Linked DNA regions of Homo sapiens: regions 2, 3 and 4 are each linked to region 1. Evidence: fine-mapped expression QTL. A gene starts in region 1. Each other region holds a variant in brackets. All regions are shown on one strand. Distances are between the middles of the regions.

What was found. PIP is the estimated chance that this variant, and not a neighbour inherited with it, causes the effect.
Region 2: its variant is fine-mapped to the expression of PDCD1 in minor salivary gland (GTEx, PIP above 0.99).
Region 3: its variant is fine-mapped to the expression of PDCD1 in monocytes (Quach 2016, PIP 0.95). The same link has a PIP of 0.9 or more in monocytes after Pam3CSK4 and monocytes after R848.
Region 4: its variant is fine-mapped to the expression of PDCD1 in whole blood (TOPMed, PIP 0.95).

What each region holds. Positions count from the first base shown.
Region 1 is chr2:241,855,885-241,860,884 of GRCh38, forward strand. PDCD1 (programmed cell death 1) reads right to left here and starts at 3,010. Exons shown (of 5, transcript NM_005018.3): 1 at 2,879-3,010. The coding sequence starts at 2,954. LOC105373977 (a long non-coding RNA gene) reads left to right here. Exons shown (of 2, transcript XR_924076.2): 2 at 1-392. LOC124908032 (a long non-coding RNA gene) reads left to right here and starts at 3,188. Exons shown (of 2, transcript XR_007088436.1): 1 at 3,188-4,193. RefSeq lists an enhancer at 2,216-3,178.
Region 2 is chr2:241,410,855-241,415,854 of GRCh38, forward strand. It overlaps FARP2 (FERM, ARH/RhoGEF and pleckstrin domain protein 2), which reads left to right. Exons shown (of 27, transcript NM_014808.4): 6 at 179-276; 7 at 2,453-2,567. Among named protein-coding and RNA genes, the nearest start is that of FARP2, 57 kb to the left of the region's middle. The variant T/C (reference allele first, on the strand shown) is at 2,312.
Region 3 is chr2:241,819,358-241,824,357 of GRCh38, forward strand. No RefSeq gene overlaps it. Among named protein-coding and RNA genes, the nearest start is that of NEU4, 13 kb to the left of the region's middle. The variant G/A (reference allele first, on the strand shown) is at 2,862.
Region 4 is chr2:241,767,370-241,772,369 of GRCh38, forward strand. It overlaps D2HGDH (D-2-hydroxyglutarate dehydrogenase), which reads left to right. Exons shown (of 10, transcript NM_152783.5): 10 at 341-1,442. The coding sequence ends at 600. Among named protein-coding and RNA genes, the nearest start is that of GAL3ST2, 7.0 kb to the right of the region's middle. RefSeq lists an enhancer at 3,394-4,306. The variant A/G (reference allele first, on the strand shown) is at 2,579.

The DNA.
Region 1 (5,000 bases):
GGGCCGAACCGTGTCCCCACAGATTCCTATGTGGAAGTCCTAACCCCATGACCTCAGAAGGCGGCCTTATTAGGAATAGGGTGACGGCAGCTGGGACTAGGTAAGATGAGGGCACAGGGCTGGGTGGCCATTGACCAGCAGGCCTGGCTTCCTGTACAGAGTCACCCGTGCAGAGATGAAGGCAGAGCCTGGGGGATGCTTCTGAACCCAGGAACACAGAGGGTGGCCACAAAACCCCCCAGCCAGGAGAAGCTGAGCAGAGCCCTCTCGGAGCACAGGGAGCCGACCCTGTGGCCCCTCGGTCCTGCATGTCCAGCCCCCCACGGCGGGAGGACAGGCTCTGTTTTTAAGCCACAGCCGGGAGAGGCTGAGCAGAGCCCCTCAGAGCACAGGGGAGCCGACCCTGCGGAGCTCCATCCTGCACGTCCAGCCCTCAGTCGGCGAGAGGGCAGGCTCTGTTTAAAAGCCACTCGGTCGGCGGAGCTTTGTCATGGCAGCTCCAGCCGCCCAGTCCCCAAAGCAAATGTGTCAATATTCTTAGTTATTGATTCTAGGTGAGGGATATTCATTGTTTTTAAACGTTTTTGTATATTTTTCAAAATAGTCCGTTTAAAATCTGACTTCAAAAGTTTGACTTTAAAAATCAGACTTTAAAAATATGTGTCATGGAGGCCAGATGCAGTGGCTTATGCCTGTAATCCCAGTACTTGGGGAGGCTGAGGTGGGAGGACCATTTGAGCCCAGCCTGGGGAACATAGCGAGACCCTGTCTCTAAAAAAAATGGAAGAAATTAGCCTGGCAGGGTGGCACGTGCCTATAGTCCCAGCTACTCTGGAGGCAGAGGTGGGAGAATTGCTTGAGCCCCGGAGGTCGAGTGAGCCGAGATCACACCACTGCACTCCAGCCTGGGTGACAGAGCAAGACCCTGTCACTAAAAGAAACAAACAAAAAAGTGTCAGGGGCTGGGCTGGGTAGTTTTCACAGATGACCCGATTTAATCCTCAGGACGCAGCCTTGCCAGGAGGCGTCCTCACCCATGACCCAAAGCACACGGAGAAGTCAGTAAGGGGCCAAGTCCTGTCGAAGGCCCAGAGCTCAGCAGTGGCAGCGCTGACTGGAGCTCACAGTGGTCCCACGCCAAAGCAGAGGCTCTTATTTATGCTCCTGCCCTCGGACGGGGCCAATAAGCAGCCGGGTTGGGGATATCTCATAAAACACAAGGGAAGCACACACCTGAGGTGGGAGTGGTGGCCCCGGGAATGACCGAATGGCGAACGCAGTGAATAGATCAGGAGGGAAAAGAGGCATCCTGGAATGAAGACCACTGCGGCCGGGGTGGCCACATCTGGGTCAGGACCCACAGGACCCCAGTCATGCCCACTGCGCCTTGCTGAGTGCCCTGTGCTGTTACCAGTGGGGAAACCGAGGCATGCCACCTGTGAGAGTCTTGTCCGGCACAAGCGCGGGCACCTGAGGCACGAGTGTCAGGCTGCGGACACCTTGCTCTTATCTTTCCCGCCTGGGTCGGGGAGGGTGGCGTCCCGAGGGCGTGCCTGAAGAGCCGGGACACGGGGGGAGAGGCTCGGCTCCCCTCCTGCCTCGCTCAGCTCCCCCTCCCCTGTGACGAGCGCCCCTCTGCCCTCTGGTTCCCCCGCAGTCGTCTCCCTGGGATGCCTTTTGGCCCTTTGCTCTTTGCCTTTTGCCCAGAATCTCCAGTTCTGAGTCCTGAGTGACCCACGGGCCAACCTTAAGAGGTGGCGCTGAGGCAGGAAGGCACGGCCCTGACAAGGATGCTGCCTCAGGTGCCGGGGAGCAGGCCCCGGGAGAGGGGCCGAGGTGGGGAACCCCCAGTCGCCTGCCACAGTGAAGGGGCACCAGGACCCCCGGGGCAGGAGCCTCGAGGGGGTGTCAGGGCGGCCCCAGGGGTGCCCCTCATCTTGTCCTCCCAGTGGTGTCACACCCCGGTACCCAGCAGGGCCCAGAGGGACTGTCTTAGGCTTGGCCTGGGTGAAACCACCCTCCCCAGGCCTTGGCATCCCCAGGTGCAGGCTGGCTGGGCACAGAGGGCCAGCCGGGCACAGAGGGTCCAGGAGCGGGCTGTGGTCACAGTGTACACAGAGGGCCCAGGGTCACGGGCAGCCCAGGAAGAGGCTCCCTCTCTCCTCGATCCGGGAGAGTGAGGCCAAGGCCTCCCCCACGGATGGTCTGAACAGGGCTCGGGGAGAGCCCTGGAATCTGGGCAGAGACCCAGGCGGGCACAATCCCCACCCAGGAGGGATCCTGGAGACAGAAGAACTGTCCTCACTCGAACAGGTACACTTTGGATATAATGAGAAAAATATCACCAGCTCATCTAAACTTTGACGTCGTAAAGCCAAGGTTAGTCCCACATGGGGCTCATCCCATCCTTAGGAAAACTCGAGTGAGGACCAAGGATGCCTGGGCAAGGCAGAGCCGCCACGCAGACTCCCCACGGCCAAGGTTTGGGGTTCTGGCCAGCCTGACCCGTCATTCTACAGAAACACGCAGCCCCAAGGACCGGCTGAGAGGGGACAGAGGTCCTGCCTGCCCAGGAGCAAAGAGGGGACTTGGGCCAGGGGAGGAGTTGGGGCCCAGAGAGGAACCCAGGAGTTCGAGCTGCCCAAAGCCACACAGCTCAGGGTAAGGGGCAGAGCTGGGGGCCAAGGCTGGGCCTGCCACAGCACCCCCCGACCTGCCAGGGACTGAGAGTGAAAGGTCCCTCCAGACCCCTCGCTCCGGGACCCCTGGGCTGCCAGGGCCAGGCCCGCCTCAGCACCCCCCGACCTGCCAGGGACTGAGGGTGGAAGGTCCCTCCAGACCCCTGGCTCTGGGACACCTGACCGCCGACCCCACCTACCTAAGAACCATCCTGGCCGCCAGCCCAGTTGTAGCACCGCCCAGACGACTGGCCAGGGCGCCTGTGGGATCTGCATGCCTGGAGCAGCCCCACCAGAGTGCCGCCTTCTCCACTGCTCAGGCGGAGGTGAGCGGAAGGGAAACTGTCCCAGGTCAGGTTGAAGGGAGGGTGCCCGCCCCTTGCTCCCGCCCCCTCTTCCTCCACATCCACGTGGGCGAGAGTGACAGAGGCAGTGCTGGGGGAGGAGGGGTGAGGAGGGGGTAGGACTGGGGAGAGGGTGGGGGAGGGAGAGAGAGACAGAGACAGGGAGACAGAGGAGATGGGGAGGAGGTGGGCCCGTGGCCCCCACGCCCTACCCCGTGGGGGTCTCCCCAGCTCAGGGCCCCTTCCTCCTCTGTGTCTCTGCTCACTGCTGTGGCCTCTTTCCATATCCCGCCCGAGCTGCCCCTCCTGAGGCTGCCGGGTGGGGGCAGGCCCTTCTCCTCCCCCATCCCCCCCATCTCCCTGGGGGCCGGGCCTCCCTGCCTGGGGAAGGTGGGTGGCCCCCTCTGGGCTCAGGTTCCTGGGCTGCAGTGAGGGGTGGGCTCAACCCCACTCCCATTCTGTCGGAGCCTCTGGGAGCCTCCCGGCTGCCCACAGCCTCTGCCCCTGCTGGGGGCAGGTGCCTGGCCTCTGCCTTCCCGGCCCATCCCCCTTCGCTGGGGCACAGGTGACCCTACTGAATGACAACTGTCCATGGCTAATCGGCTCCCCCTCAAAGCTTCCACCTTGTGGATGGCCTCACACCATGGCCACAGTTCCAGATCTTTCCACCGTGTGATGCCTGCAACAGCCTGACGGGGGGGCTGGGGCGGTGGCAGGGGCTGGCTGTGAGGCTGACCTCCCCTTCCAGCCTTGACCTTCTTCCCCGGGGCCCTGCCCTCCAGCCCACTCGTGCCAGGGTGGGGTGGTTCAGGGGGTCCAGTGCCTGGGCCTGGCTGGCGGCCCGGCGTTTGTGAAATGGCTTGCTTATCTCCTTGTATTCTGTGCTGAGCATTTTATTACAGCGAATGGAAAACAGGAGAAATGAAACTGCTGATATTAGTGATGAGATGCGTCAGGCTCATCAGCTTAAAATAACCGAAGCGAGGCTAGAAACCGCCTGACAGCTGGCGCGGCTGCCTGGCTCCGAGAGACACTCGGCCCGGCTCTGAAGGGAAAACATTAAAGCACCGAAACAGTGGAAAAAGAGCATCAAAGATGATGTCTGCGAGGCGCGGCCACGGCGAGGAAGCTCTCGTTTATGAACAAAGGGCCACTCCCGGGTCTCAGAGATGTGAGGCTGTGTGGGTGGCTTGGTGGGGAGGTGGGGGGGGCCCAGCTGGCCAGGTGGGCTTGGCGGGGGGCCCCCAGGGAGCCTGGCAGCACCCACTGTGCTGCCAGACAGCTAAGGTGGCCCGCAGCAACTGTCTCCTGGCACACCCACCCTTGTGCCTCAGGGGCTGGGGCTCTGGGGCTGGAGAACTGTTGGTTGGTAGGTGCCTCCATAGCCCTGTGCCTCGCCCAGGCAGTGGATAAGTGGCTAAGCTGCCCCTGCTGGCTGTACTTGTCCTGAAGGCAGATTCTGGACAGAACCTCCCTCTGCCCCCAGCCCTGTAGAGCCTTGTTCCAACCTCTGTTGAATGCTGTCTCTGTTCCAGGGCAGCAGTGGGCCTTCCTCAAGGCTCTGAGCTTTGTGGGACGAAGCTGTCCTCTGAGGACTGGGAATGCCACTGTGTGGGCTGGAGGGGAGGCTGGGCCCAGGAGGTGGGCTCTGAGATGGGAGATGCTATCAGACCCCTGGAAGGTCTCCTCACCACCAAGGCCCTGCCCCCAAAATTCCACCTGCCAGGGCTTGGACACATGTCCTGGAGTAGGGGGCGGGCACAGGGAGAAACCCAGCTTCCATCCTACCCCTTCCTTCCTTCTCCTTCTCCCACCCCTCTCCTCTCTCCCTGCAGTTCTTCCCTGTCACCCACTCTCCTTCCCTCCTCCTCTCAGTCCCACTGAAGGCCCCTGGGCCATGGGAGAGGAGACCTGGTGGGGTGGGCCCAGCGTGGAGCCAGGGGACTGCGGCCACTGAGGCCAGGGCTGCCTGATGGTC
Region 2 (5,000 bases), 450 kb before region 1:
TTGTTTCATGAAAGGCCTTTTGTGACTTTGCTGTTTCGTGACCGCCTTGCGTTTTGCTCACTGTTGGGTCACTGCCACTTCCCAGGGCTCATTTGCTGTCTTGCTGTGGAGACATGTCTATGTTACATTCAGAGAACATTTGGAATTGATCTCTGTCTTATTTTGAACTCTCTTCTAGATACTTGTTTGCCTTGCAACTTAAGAGAGACCTGCTGGAAGAGCGTTTGACCTGTGCTGACACCACAGCGGCCCTTCTCACGTCCCATCTCCTGCAGTGTGAGTATCTCCCCGCCAGCGGGGAGCATTCACTGACCATGGCACAGATATACCCGCACTCAGAACTACAATTAGTTGCTGATGTATTTGCCTAGTTAGTGAGCCTGACCATAGAATGAGGTGTTTCAACTTCAGTGTTTTTTATAAGCTACAGATTAACTTCTGTAAAGTGGAACTCCTTGAGGCAAATAGTTTCCACGTAGCAAACACAGGCCAAGGCCAAAATCTGTAGCCACGTTCCTTCTTTTGGGTTGTCTCTCATTTATGCCTTTGTGCATTTTACCAGCAATGCATATTCAGTCTAAGAGTCAGAATATAAACCAAACTCTGAGCAAACCCTGGAAAGGGCCTCACTGGGATAAAAGTTACAGTCCTCTCAGATTAGTAAAGCATTAGCCATGAAGGAAAAAGAAGACATTTCTTCAGTATCTCACACAGATCAAGAGATGGTTCAGAACTGTGTCAAGAATTATAGTTACTTCAAAAATAAACCATGAGAAGTGTAAGAGGAGGTTCTGGCACCTTGCCGAGCCCCCAGCGATGGGAATAGAAAAACAGAAATACCCACATTGCTCCTGGACTAGAGGTGGGACCACAGCTAGCACAGAACTAATGTTTCTGAAATTTGAATCCAGGAAATATGACATAGAAAGTTCCAAAATTTTAGGAATTAATAAGTATATAGGTTATTTGCAGCTTCCTTGGTCCTTCCCCAGACATACCTTCTTCAAATAATAAATTTTATTATGGGTTTGCTATCCTCCACCAGGGGACGTGTTGATTAATAAAAGTTTTCAAAGTGACTTTGGTTCTTACTCATTTGGCTGAAAGACTTCTCAGGTAGACACATGGCAACGAATGCAATGTATGACTGAACCAGATCTTTTTGCTATAAAAAACATAATTGGGCAGTTGGTAAAATATGACTAGGGTCCACATCTGGGATGGAGCCTCAGATCGTGGCCCTGTTCCTGATCTGGGTAGTTTTACAAGGCTGCGGGTAAGAATATTGTATTAGTCCATTTCCACACTGCTGATAGAGATGTGGCGGCAGCGAGAGAGGCTTGTACAGGGAAATGGCCCCTTGTAAAATCATCAGATCTCATGAAAGTCTCACTATTACAAGAACAGCACGGAAAAGATCCGCCCCCATGAGTCAGTTACCTCCCACTGGGTCCCTCCCACAGTAAGTGGGACTTGTGGGAGTTATAATTCAAGATGAGATTTGGGTGGGAACACAGCCAAACCGTATCAAATGTCATAGTTTATAGGAAGTCCATACTGAAGTATGGCAAGTAACATGTTAGCAACTCACTCTCAAATGGCTCAAAGGAGAAAAAACTCTTGTACTGTGCTTGTAACTTCTCTGTGAATATGAGATTGTCTAAAAATAAAAGCATATTGCTTTAAATTATTGAACTTTATGTTATTAAGACATTGTGGCCTTAAAATACATGAAATTAGACAGAGACATTATTCATCAAGAAATTTGAGAAGGTCTGAAGGAAAAAAATCATTTAAAATACATTATCCTAAAATAAATAAAATACTTCAGCCTGATCATGATAATCTTGAGACAATTTAGGTTTAAGGTGTAGTTTAAAAATAATAGTAGTCCAGGTGCAGTAGCTCATGCCTATATTCCCAGCACATTTGGGAGGCCAAGGCAGGAGGATTGCTTAAGTCCAGGAGTTTGAGACCAGCCTGGGCAATGTGGCAAAACCTTATCTCTACAAAAAATACAAAAATTAGCTGGGCATGATGGTGCTTACCTATAGTCCCAGCTACTTAGGAGGCTGAGGCGGGCAGATTGCTTGAGTCCAGAAGGTTGAGGCTGCAGTGAGTAGTGATTGCACCATTGCACTCCAGCCTGGTCAACAGAACGAGACCTTGTGTCAAAATAATAATAAACACATTAAACTCATCAATGTTTGCCTCCCTGGAGTTACTAATCAGGCCTTTGTTCTTCAAGAAATCCTCTTCACTTCCCATTATATTTGCCTTTTAACAGCATAAAATATTTGGAAAAATTAAA[T/C]AAAAAATCTTGCTTTTTTAGGGATATATTCTTTTGCTACAAATTTGGGATAATTTTTTTTTACTTTTAATGTATGCAATGACACATACAAATGCTTGTAGTTTATTTAAAAATTAGTTACTTACTTTTAACCTATCTCAGCGGAAATAGGAGATTACGATGAAACGCTGGACCGAGAGCACCTCAAAGTGAACGAGTATTTGCCTGGCCAGCAGCACTGCCTTGAGAAGATACTAGAATTCCATCAGAAGCACGTGTAAGTCATCACAATTGTCTGTCAACACATTGTCACCACAGTAATGACTAAAGAGTGTGTAACGAGAAAGGACTGTTGTCGTGACTTCTGCAAGATTCTAACATAAGGACCATTGCTCCTGGCCTCAGGATGTGCAGCTGCTGCCAGAGGCAGCTTGGCAGACACACAGACACACAGGTGCCCTGGCCTGAAGCACCTTCACACCTGCACGATGTGCTGCTTTAGAAGGTGCTGGAAGAAGCCAGGCACGGTGGCTCATGCCTGTTATCCCAGCACCCTGGGAGGCTGAGGCAGGTGGATTGCCTGAGGTCAGGAGTTTGAGACCAGCCTGGCCAACATAGTGAGACCCCATCTCTACTAAAAATACAAAAAATTAGCTGGGCTAATGGCAGGCACCTGTAGTCCCAGCTACTCAGGAGGTGAGGCAGGAGAATCGCTTGAACCCAGGAGGTGGAGGTTACAGTGAGACAAGATCGTGCCACTACACTCCAGCCTGGCACCAGAGTGAAACTCCGTCTCAAAAAAAAAAAAAAAGGTGCTGGAAAAGACATCAGGGTCTGGGGGAGGAGGATGCTACTGAGCAGGATGGGGTGGCTATTGGGGGGGTGTCAGCTGCTGCAGTGTCTCTGCAGTGTGGCAGAAAGAGTCCTCTACGGGGAAGACACTGTGCTGTGGTAGAGGAGGAGGGGACTGTGTGAGGCTAACAGTGTCTGCCTGTGTCAGGGCATTGGGAATCGCCTGGCACCCATGGCCTTCATCTCATCTTGTTTTGATTTCTCTAAGACTTGACACTGGTGGGTTTTTCTGGATGGAAGTGATAGAGACCTAGAGAAGGAGTGCTAGCTAAGGGGAAAAGGATTGAAGAACGGTATGGGAAAGGGCTCTGGGCTCTGGCCCAGGTGGCTGGGAGCTTTAGTCACCAAAGGGGAGCACTCAGCTGGTGAAAGTGAGTCAGGAGGACTTAGCCTTGCCTTTGTGACACATCCTGTTGAGATGCAGGTTTGTTTGTCAGATCATGTATGTTCATGTGTGTCGTTAAGGCTCTACCGGGACCTGCTGGCAGCTGCCCTTTCACACCTTCAAAGTATGAGTGCCAGCTATGCATCCACCACTGCTGTCAGCACTGGGGAGCTGGTTTGAACGGCACAGACTGAGGTGCCTACCCATACAGATCTTACCTTACCCCGTAAGATTGTGTGGATTTCGTGCACCTCACCACTCCCAGTGTGGGGGATCTCTTGTGTTTGCAGGGGAGTGCCTTTTGTGTGCCCGACAGCATGGCAGTCATGAGATATACAGATGCGTTTCTACAGATGAGAATGTGTGCAGTGTAGCGGGAGCATAGCTCATACGCTGTGAGCTGAAAGAAGGCCGAGGGCAGGCTCAAGGAGGCTCGTGGGAGGACCTAGGCGGACAAAGCCAGGGAGGAAGCATTCCAGGCAAAGCACCAGCCTGGGAAGGGAGGGAGAAGGAAGCAGAGAGGAGAGGGAGGTTCCAGCATGGCTTGGGCAGTTTGGGTTCAAGGGCTGGAGGTAGAAGTGCCAACTGATACTGGAGAGGCTGTAGTGGCAATTACGGACAGCTCTTACGAGCATTTTTGTGTAATCCTCAAACCCACATCATGGCATGCACTGTTTTACTCCATTGTACATACGGTCAGACCATGCGTGCAGAGCTCCATCTCGGACATGACGGTGTGGGGCATCTTGTGTGTGTAAGTCGGTGCTTCTCATCCATTTGCCTGACCTGACCTTGAGGAGGCCTCCATGCAGGGCAGTACAGGTAGAGCTCCTGCTCTATTCTCCCAGGTACCCTTGGCTTTGCCTCTTTCAAGTGTTGCCATTATTCTAGCTGGTAGTGAGGAAGGTACAGCTGTTCTGAGTGTCACATCCAGACCTTGACCCATGGAGCCAAGGGCCCTCTGCTAGTGTTGTGTGCCATCCCAGCAGGAAACGGTCACTGGTTCAGTCTGCATTCCTAGGGTTGGGGATAGTCTCTCCCTGCTGAGACACACAGCAGGGGCTGGACATGAGGAAGGGAGAATTGGGCATTGTGCTGCGAACTGTCCAACCTGAAGGACAGTCCCTAGTGGATGGGTGGGTTTGGGATGCTGGGGAGAGTGTTGTCAGCACGTAGGCTGGGCTAACCTGTGCAGTGGGTGAAATCAGCTAGGCAGAGGGCAGATACAGGTCAGGAAGGGAGAAGAGCCCAGGATGAACCCCTGAAGAACTGACATTTGAGAGGCTGAGTGCAGGAGGAGGCACCCACAAGAGCCTTTAGCAGCCAGAAGCATGGAAGGGCACAGGTGCCAAGAGAGCATGTTTTAGGATAGTGGCCACAGCCTCTTGTGTGGAGACTACAGGCCTGGGGAGGTAGGCACAGGAGCAGGTTTCTGAGCTTGGCAGTGTGGCAGTGTATCGCCTTCAGCAGCTT
Region 3 (5,000 bases), 37 kb before region 1:
TGTCCTGCCTCGTGGTGTGTGTGTAGGTTGTGTTCTGGGTGCATCCTCTCATGCGTGTGTCCTGGCTCGTGGCCCGTGTGTAGGTCGCGTGCTGGGTGCATCCTCTCATGCGTGTGTCCTGGCTCGTGGCCCGTGTGTAGGTCATGTGCTGGGTGCATCCTGTCATGCGTGTGTCCTGGCTCGTGGCCCGTGTGTAGGTTGCGTGCTGGGTGCATCCTGTCGTGTGTGTCCTGGCTCGTGGCCCGTGTGTAGGTCGTGTGCTGGGTGCATCCTGTCATGCGTGTGTCCTGCCTCGTGGTGTGTGTGTAGGTTGTGTGCTGGGTGCATCCTCTCATGCATGTGTCCTGGCTCATGGCCCGTGTGTAGGTCGTGTGCTGGGTGCATCCTGTCATGCGTGTGTCCTGCCTCGTGGTGTGTGTGTAGGTTGTGTGCTGGGTGCATCCTCTCATGCATGTGTCCTGGCTCATGGCCCGTGTGTAGGTCGTGTGCTGGGTGCATCCTGTCATGCGTGTGTCCTGCCTCGTGGTGTGTGTGTAGGTTGTGTGCTGGGTGCATCCTCTCATGCGTGTGTCCTGGCTCGTGGCCTGTGTGTAGGTCGTGTGCTGGGTGCATCCTGTCATGCGTGTGTCCTGCCTCGTGGTGTGTGTGTAGGTTGTGTGCTGGGTGCATCCTGTCATGCGTGTGTCCTGGCTCGTGGCCCGTGTGTAGGTCGTGTGCTGGGTGCATCCTCTCATGCGTGTGTCCTGGCTCGTGGCCCGTGTGTAGGTCGTGTGCTGGGTGCATCCTGTCATGCGTGTGTCCTGGCTCGTGGCTAGCAGGGTCATCACAGTCCACTCTTCTGCCTTCAGATCTGAAGCAAAGGAGCCACAGGCCTCTCTGGGGTTCTGGAAGCCGTGGAGCCCACTGCAGCTCTGCATGGCCCATTCTTCGTCATTCTCTTCTATACTGGGGTGAGCGGCGTCCCCAGCTTCATGTCCCCCTGGAAGCTCAGACTTTGCTACCTTATTTGCAAGTAGGGCCTTTGCAGACGTGATGGAGGTAAGAGGAGGTCATACTGGATTGCAGTGGGTTTAGCCCAGTGACGTCCGTCCTTGTGAGTCACAGACGCAGGGAGGAGCCATGTGAAGGTGGAGGCAGAGGCTGCAGTGATGCCGCCACCAGCCACGGGGGCTGCTCAGAGCTGGAAGAGGCTGAAGGACCCTGCGCTGGAGCCTTCAGAGAGGGTGCGGGCCTGTCACCCTTGGCTTCAGACGGCCTCCAGAGCCGCGAGAGGACGCATTTGCATTGCTTCAGCCGCCAGTCGGTGAGATTTGTTGCGGCAGCCTGGGAAGCAGCACACCTTCCTGCCTTTGCCGTCTGTCCGTCCGTCCGTCTGTCCACATGGGCCTCAGACCCCGGGGGATCCTGGCCGTCACTGCCCGGCCATGTGCAGCCTCGGCCTGTGTCAGACAGACTTGGGCTCGAGGTCCCCAGGAGCTCCGGTCGCCGTGGTGGAGCCTCTCGATGTCTCGGGCTGTCTGCGGCTGGAGCACCCTCTGAGCTGGGGTTGGGTCAGGTCTGAAGAAGGGGCCGGAGCTGGCCCTGCCAAGGGCCCCTCCTAGCAGCCGTGGCCTCCTCAGGTGGGGCCCAGGGCTCCGAGGCCCTGACTCCTCCAGGTCTGGGCAGCTGCTCAGGACCGGGGAAGGCTCTGCCAGGTGTGATGCCCCAGGCTGGGAGAGGGTGTGGCGGGGGGGCTGCCTGGCTCAGGGCAGGTTGAGCCCTTCCTCCTGCCCTCCTGCCACTGCCCCAGCTGTGGCAGGCTCAGGACATCTGGTGTCTGCTGGTGGGGGGGTCGCTGTGCCTGGGGACAGTCCTTCCCCCCTGCTGCACTGGGAGTTCCTCTGGCATCCTGGGAGGCCTGTGCCTCGAGAGAGACCAGCCCCCTAGATTCCTCCCACCACGGGCGGCTCCCCGGCACCCAACCGGCTCCTGAGCCCCTGCCCCACCTCCACATTCCCGATGGCTGCTCTCCCAGCCTCTTTTCCTTCCTTCCACCCCTGTATGGTTTCGATCTGTGTCCCCTCCCAAATCTTATGTCGAATTGTAATTCCCAGTGTTGGAGGTGGGGCCTGGTGGGAGGTGACTGGATCATGGGGTGGACTCTCAGGAAGGGTTTACTGCTATCGCCTCGGTGCTGTCCTCATGACAGCGAGTTCCCCCGAGACCTGGCTGTTTAAAGGTGTGCGGCACCTCCCCACCTTGCTGCTGCTTTCGCCATGTGACGTGCCTGCTCCCCCTTCTCTTCCACCAGGATTGTGGGTTTCCTGGGGCCTCCCCGGAAGCCGAGCAGATGCCAGCACCACGCTTCCTGTAGAGCCTGCAGAACCGGGAGCCGATTAAACTTCTTTTCCTTAAGAATCACCCAGCCTCCGGTGTTCCTTCACAGTAGGGTGAGGGGGGCGAACGCACACCCTGAGCCTTAGGGGCAACTCCTGCTGCTGTGCCCAGGCTGGGCCGGGCAGTGGCTCAGGAACGTGGCGGGGAACACGGTGCCAGTGCTGGGGTCAGGGCTCTGTCGTGGAGGCAGGATGTCTCTGTGGTTCCTTCCTAACCCTCATCCTTTTACCTCTTGTCCTGGCTTACTGGGCTGGCAAGGACCTCCAGGAAGATGTTAAACAGCCTTGATGTCTGATAGGCCAAACAAGGGCCCGGAAGCCGTCTGCATCCTCATTCCGGGGCCTGCACCATGACGTCATGGCGAAGGGCTGCGCCGAGGGGGCCGGCTGAGGGTCTTGAGGTGAGAAATCATCCTGGTCATCTGGGTGGGTCCAGGGTCTCACCAGGGTCCTTATGGGAGGGGACAAAGGGTGGGAGAGGAGGGA[G/A]GAGGCCTTGGAGCTGGGTTTGAAGATGGAGGAGGGGCCACAGCTGAGGAGCCGGTGGCCTCTGGAAGCTGGAAAAGACGGGAAGCGAAGCCCGGACAGCCTGCAGAGGAACCAGCCTTGCGGACCCCTTGATGTTAGCCCGGGGAGGCCATGTCAGACCCCCGGCCCCCAGAACTTCTGGGGATGCATTTGTGTCGTTTCAACCTCCAGGTCTGTGTGATTTGCTATGCAGCCTCGGGAAACAGCTGTGTGGCCACCAGGGTCCCACCCTGCTCCCGCCTTCTGGGCTCCAGGACGCAGGTGTGGGACCCCTCACCATCCGCATGGCCCTCTGCTGTGCACTCTCCTTCTCGTTCGTGTCTGTGCTGCATTCTGGTTGGTTTTCCTTGGCTTTTTTTTTTTTCTAGTTCACGAATTCTCTCTTTGCTGTGTTTAATCAGCTGGGAGTTACTCTCTTGCTCCCTCTCTCCCTCCCCCATCCTTTCTCTGTCCTTGTCTCTCTGTCTCTGTGTCTGTCTCTGTTTCTCTTTGTGTTTGTGTCTCTCTCTGTCTCTGTGTCTTGGGCTGTCTCTCTTTGTGTTTGTGTCTGTCTCTTTCCGTGACTCTGTCTCCCTCTGTGTCTCTGACTCTGTGTCTCTGTCTCTCTGTGTCTCTGACTCTGTGTCTGTCTGTGTCTCTGACTCTGTGTCTCTGTCTCTCTGTGTCTCTGACTCTGTGTCTCTGTCTCTCTGACTCCGTGTCTCTTCTCTGTGTCTCTGAGTCTGTCTCTGTGTCTCTGTCTCTCTTTCTCTGTCTCTGAGTCTGTCTCTGTCTCTTTGTGTCTCTGACGCTTTCTGTCCCTGTCTCTCTCTGTGTCTCTGTCTCTGTGTCTCTGTCTCTGACTCTGTATCTCTGTCTCTCTATGTCTCTGACTCCGTGTCTCTGTCTCTCTCTGTGTCTGAGTCTGTCTCTGTGTCTCTGTCTCTCTTTCTCTGTGTCTCTGTCTCTGTGTCTCTGTCTCTCTGTCTCTGACTCTGTGTCTCTGTCTCTCTGTGTGTCTGTCTCTGTGTGTCTGTCTCTGTGTCTCTGTCTCTGTGTCTCTGTCTCCCTGTGTCTCTGTCTCTCTCTCTGTGTCTCTGTCTCTCTCTTTCTCTGTGTCTCTGTCTCCCTGTGTCTCTGTCTCTCTCTTTCTCTGTGTCTCTGTCTCTGTGTCTCTCTCTGTCTCTGTATCTCTGTCTCTCTGTCTCTGACTCTGTGTCTCTGTCTCTCTGTGTCTCTCTCTGTGTCTCTGTGTCTCTCTCTGTGTCTCTGTCTCCCTGTGTCTCTGTCTCTCTCTTTCTCTGTGTCTCTGTCTCTGTGTCTCTCTCTGTCTCTGTATCTCTGTCTCTCTGTCTCTGACTCTGTGTCTCTGTCTCTCTGTGTCTCTCTCTGTGTCTCTGTGTCTCTCTCTGTGTCTCTGTCTCCCTGTGTCTCTGTCTCTCTCTTTCTCTGTGTCTCTGTCTCTGTGTCTCTCTGTCTCTGTATCTCTGTCTCTCTGTCTCTGACTCTGTGTCTCTGTCGTGTCTCTGTGTCTCTCTCTGTGTCTCTGTGTCTCTCTCTGTGTCTCTGTCTCCCTGTGTCTCTGTCTCTCTCTTTCTCTGTGTCTCTGTCTCCCTTTGTGTTCTTCTCCACGACGTTCTCTTTGTCTGACTTTCTGCTCCTGCCGCGTGCGCAGAGGGGCGAGGAGGAAGCATTTGCGCATGCGCAGAAGGCTCGCTCCACGCCACGTGCTTCAAGCGCGTCGTTCCGTTTAGTATGAAATAAAGGCCCGCGGGGTGGAGAACGTGTCTGTTTTCCAGATGTGGAGATCAAGGCCCGGCAAGTCCTCTGTTGTTGACGGTTCTCAGGTGGTAGAAACGATCTCGCAGCGCACCTGCGTGGCTTCCGAAACCGTTGTCTCAAGCGTGTTCCACTTGATGTGATTAAAAAAGTTCTCGTGGCCCCAAGCACCTGCTTTACCTGCTCAGACCAGAGTGTCGTTCCGTCCCATTCATTCCGCAGCTTTCCCCGAACGCACACAAGTGAAATGTAAATGTCAGTGTGTGTGTATCTATCTCCCGTTTCTCCCAAAGCGAGACCGTCAGCTGCTATCACTGCACAGCGATGCGGGGACCAGGCCCG
Region 4 (5,000 bases), 89 kb before region 1:
GCCCCGGGCTGAGGGAGTAGGAAGAGGGGGGAGAAGTTGGGGAGATGGGAGCCCCGGGCTGAGGGAGTAGGAAGAGGGGGGAGAAGTTGGGGAGATGGGAGCCCCGGGCTGAGGGAGTAGGAAGAGGGGGGAGAACTTGGGGAGAGAAGCAGGGAGAAGCCAAGGTAGCAGCGGCCCCAGAGGAGGGGTCGGCACGTCCAGGGCGAGTGGCATGAGGGTGAGGCTCAGCCGGGGGTCTCGGGGTTGCTGGGGAGGGGATCTTGGGAGGGGCTGTTGGGGGAGGAGTGGGGTCCTGGGGGCTGCCCTGCCCAGCCTGACCCATGTGCCCTTGTCCCTCCAGGAGATGGTAACCTGCACCTCAATGTGACGGCGGAGGCCTTCAGCCCCTCGCTCCTGGCTGCCCTGGAGCCCCACGTGTACGAGTGGACGGCCGGGCAGCAGGGCAGCGTCAGCGCGGAGCACGGAGTGGGCTTCAGGAAGAGGGACGTCCTGGGCTACAGCAAGCCACCGGGGGCCCTGCAGCTCATGCAGCAGCTCAAGGCCCTGCTGGACCCCAAGGGCATCCTCAACCCCTACAAGACGCTGCCCAGCCAGGCCTGACGGCCACTCCTGCTGCTGCCAAGGCCCACTGGGGGTCGGCGGGTGGCTCTCGGGCGGGGGTGTTGCGGTGGCTCTGAGGGATGAGCCGGCAGTGGGCAGGGGACCAGGCACCTGGTTGAAGGGACTGGGAGCCCGCACTGGGGAACTGCCGGACGCAGGCCCTCGGGCAGGAGCATCTGGCAGAGTGGGGGGCGTGGCAGGCACCCTCCTTTGCAGGGCGAGGTGGGGCCTCTGCAGCCATCCTGGACAGGCCGGGGTGGCGGCAGCTTTGCCCACGTGGAAGCGGGGTGGGTCTCACTTGCGTGGTGGCCCCTGGCCCCATCTTGCCTGCTGCGGCCTGGGGAGCAGGCGCTGGGTGGTGGTTCTGCCTGCTTGCTGCTCGTTCCCCGGGCATGCGTGGGCAGCGGGGGGCATGCGTGGGCAGCAGGGGGCGTGGGCAGCGGGGGCACGGGCAGGACCACGTGGGCCGTGATCGTGGGTTGCCGAGAGGACCTGAGCGCTGCGGCTCTGCTGAATGGAGCCGGGTCCCTCAGGCCGTGGACGCCCTCGGGAGGGGGGTGACTGTGGCTTGTGTCTGGACAGGAATGTGTCATTTCCCACATCTTCTAGAGGGCTGCCAGCTGGGAAGACAGTTATCAGGGCAAGCTGTGCTCTGAGTTTCGGGTTCTGCTCCTACAAAGAACGTGCGGTGCTGCGGGCGAGGGCCCCGGCACGGACAAGGGCCACTGCAGAGTGTGTTTCTGCTCGTCAGCTGCCCTGGGCAGCGGATGGGCTGGGCGATGCAGCTGGATGCACATCTCATTCTGTCATGAATGTCCAGTAAAAATCTGAATTGGTTGCAACCTTCTCTTTGCTTCTGTTACTGGAAAATCATCTTTCAGAGCCCATTGTGAAGGGCCTGTGCATCCCATTCCCACAGCCCCTGGACCACTGGGGCCATAGTGTGGCCGGGCCTGACACTACTGTGACTGTCACTGTGCCTCCTGTCCCCATGCACTGTCTGGTGGCAGCTGAGCTCCCACCGGCTGCACAGGGCAGGCCTGGACATGGAACGGGCAACTCATAACCCTTGGTGGCCCTGGAGGCCCTCAGCAGCTGGGCCTGACCGAGGTGTATCCACGGGCCCCTCCTGTCCCTGTGGGTGTCGAGGACCTCGGATCCTGCTCAGAGGGGGAAACATACCTCTGACCCGCTGCCCTGCAGAGCCCGCCTGCCTAGCCAGGGCCTCTGTGTGGACAGGCCACGTCCTCCTGGTGGAGGTCCTCGGGGGATGGGTGGGGGCCTTGGTCCAGCATGATTTTTTTTTTTTGAGACAGGATCTCACTCTGTCACCCAGGCTGGAGTGCAGGGGTATAGTCACAGCTCAGTGCAGCCTCCACCTCCTGGGCTCAAGTGATCCTCCCACCTCAGCCTCCTGAGTAGCTGGGAGTACAGGTGTGAGCCATCATGCCCAGATAATTTTTTTTTTTTTTTTTGAGACAGAGTCTTGTTCTGTCACCCAGGCTGGAGTGCAGTGGTGCGATCTTGGCTCACTGCAAGTTCCGCCTCCCGGGTTCACGCCATTCTCCTTCCTCAGCCTCCCGAGTAACTGGGACTACAGGTGTCCACCACCGTGCCCGGCTAATTTTTTGTATTTTTAGTAGAGATGGGGTTTCACCTTCTTAGCCAGGATGGTCTTGATCTCCTGACCTCATGATCTGCCCGCCTCGGCCTCCCAAAGTGCTGGGATCACAGGCATGAGCCACCGCACCCGGCCATGCCCAGATAATTTTTAAATTTTTTTTTTTGTAGAGATGAGGTGTCCCTGTGTTGCCCAGGCTGGTCTTGAACTCCTGGCCTCCAGCGGCCTCCCACCTCAGCCTCCCAAAGTGCTGGGATTACAGGCCCGAGCCTCTGCGTCCAGCCGATCCAGCATGCTTTGAAGGCACAAATCAGGGGCACTTTCATGCTGGCCCAGCAGAGCCAGTGGGTCCCGCCC[A/G]ATGCCTGGGCTACTTCCTGCTGTGCCTGGGGGCACCTGGGGCTGTCCTGCCTCACTGGCCAAGGCCCGGCTCTGTCCCTGGGCTCTGGCCACTGTTCTGCCATCCCAGGCTGGGTACCCATGGGCAGCCCGACAGTATCTGTTGCACAGAGCAGACCCCAGGCCCCATGGGTGCCTGACACGAAGCCCCACAGCGTGTGCCCGCGTCCCCCGAGGTCAGCCGGCGGCTCCTGCCCTTCCCTCTGACCTCTGGTTGGGGGCCGGCCATTTTTCTGCTTGTTCCTCTAGCTCTGCTACTGGGCACATGGTCCGTGCTGGGTAGGCTGCAGGCCAGGGTGAGTTGCTGACCCGCTGACCCTGGCTGTGCACCTGCCCTCCTGCCCTGGGTGGCTGCTGCTGGCCCAGGGGTGACTTGGGGGCTTTCAAGCTTCTGCCCGTGCTGGCCGCACGACCCCACGTCCCACCCTGGGTAGGGACTTGTGATTCTCAGAGCTGGGGTCCGTTGCTTTCCTAAGGACCTCCGGCCCTGGTCGTGGTCTAAATGCTCACTCCTGTTGTTGGAGAGGCCAGCCGGGTGACAGGGAAAAGCCCAGAGCCCCGGGCTTCCCGTGAGGATCTGGGCTCAGCATGGGCTGTGGGGCTGCAGAGGCCTGGCCTTGCCTGCTGAGGGACACCCGCTGGTAGTGCCTGCAGAGGGGGGAGGAGGAATTCCTCCCCCTAGTGCCCTCTGGACCCTGGGAGAGCAAGACCTCTGCATCCACACTGCCTTCCGCTGGGCCTCTGGGGACTGGGGAAGCGGACACAGTCCAGGACTGTTGGAGGAGGAAGAGGCTGCGGCTGCTCTTCCCTGGGGGTCCGGCTCCAGGAGGCTGCGGTGACCGTTGGGCCGGAGCAGGCCAGTGCCGGGCACGTCCTGCCCATGACAGCCCTGCTGCCAGCCGTGGGCACTTGTTCCTGGAGCTCCGTGGCTGGGTCCTGCCGTCTCCGCTGCTGCCCTGCCCTGCCATGTTCACCTCCAGTTTATCCAGCAATGGGGAGAGGGGCTTCTTAGATCCCCCTCAGGCTTTTCTTTTGTGCCTTTAGATATGTGAAATACAACACAGCCAGGCAAAGCAGGTGCCGGTGAGACACCTGGCTGGCCCGAGCTGGCCCGAAGAACTGCCTGTCTGCCATGAGGAAAACCCACACTGCGTGGTGGCTGGGAGGCCAGGAGTTTTCACAAGCCGGAAACCTGTTAGATTTCTCTACCTGACAGCAGGAAAATCTGATGAGACCCGATCGCATCCAGGCAGGCCGTGTTCTCGCAGCCCGCGGGTTAACACAGACTCCGAGTGACTCCGACGCAGGAGAACGCGGCGAATCTGCGTGAGGCAGGCCACCAGCCTTGGTGCCCCGGAGACAGCTCCCCCAACGGCCATGTGACGGCGTTGAGTGTCCGTGGTCAGGTGTGTGTAAGAGACGCGCAGAGAATTCCACGCCGTCCCAACCTCCCAGCCGGAGGCTCTGACGAGGCCTGCAGCCACGCGGAAAGAGCAATGAGGAGCACGTGTGTGGGGAGGAAGGCGGGTTCTGGCCCCGTTCCTTCCGCAGCAGCTCCGGCCTGGCGGGTTCTGACGGAATTCTGCAGCGGCTCCAGCCAGGGTCGTCGGGGCGGGGTGGGTGCTCAGGGGCGGCCTTTGTGTTCGGATTAGAAGCTGGTGATTGTCACATTAAGACCTCTAAGCTGCTGCAATCTGAGAAGATGTTACACAACCAGGGCCCCTGAGCTGAGGCCAAGGAGGGGGCCAGGAGAGTGGTGGGAGGGGCCCCAGGCAGGGCCAGAGCTGCCTGTGTACAGCAGGGGAGAGGGGAGAAGGGGTGGGCCGGGTGGTCTCAGCCCCAGGGAGAGTGGAGTGCCCGCCCCTCCCCTCCCCCAGGACGGCTGGCCCCTGGGAGAGCCCCTGGGGGAGCCAGTTTCCTGTAAGCAGAAGGGCAAGTGGTTGGGACCCAGAGGTGTCTGACAGTTGTGGACTTAGAGCCCAGAGGAAGGGTTTGGGGTTTGGGGCTCCTGGGACGCCGCAGGCCCCTGAGGACGTCCATCAGGATCCTGGCAGTGTGGAGGTGTAGGGTCCAGCCCTACGGGGCTTAGCGGGTGTTTTCCCTGTGTGTGGAGATGAGGGATTGTAATAAATAAAGACACAAGATAAAGAGAGAAAGAGAAAGCAGCTGGGCTCTGGGGACCACTACCATCAAGACGCGGGGACCAGTAGTGGTCCCAGAGGGCTAGGCCCACTGATATTTATTGCATACAAGACAAGGGGGCAGGGTAAGGAGGGTGAATCTTCTCAGTGATTGACAAGGTGAAGTAAGTCATGTGATTACAGGATAGGGGGCCCTTCCCTTTTAGGTAGCCGAAGCAGAGACGGAAGGCAGCAAACGTCAG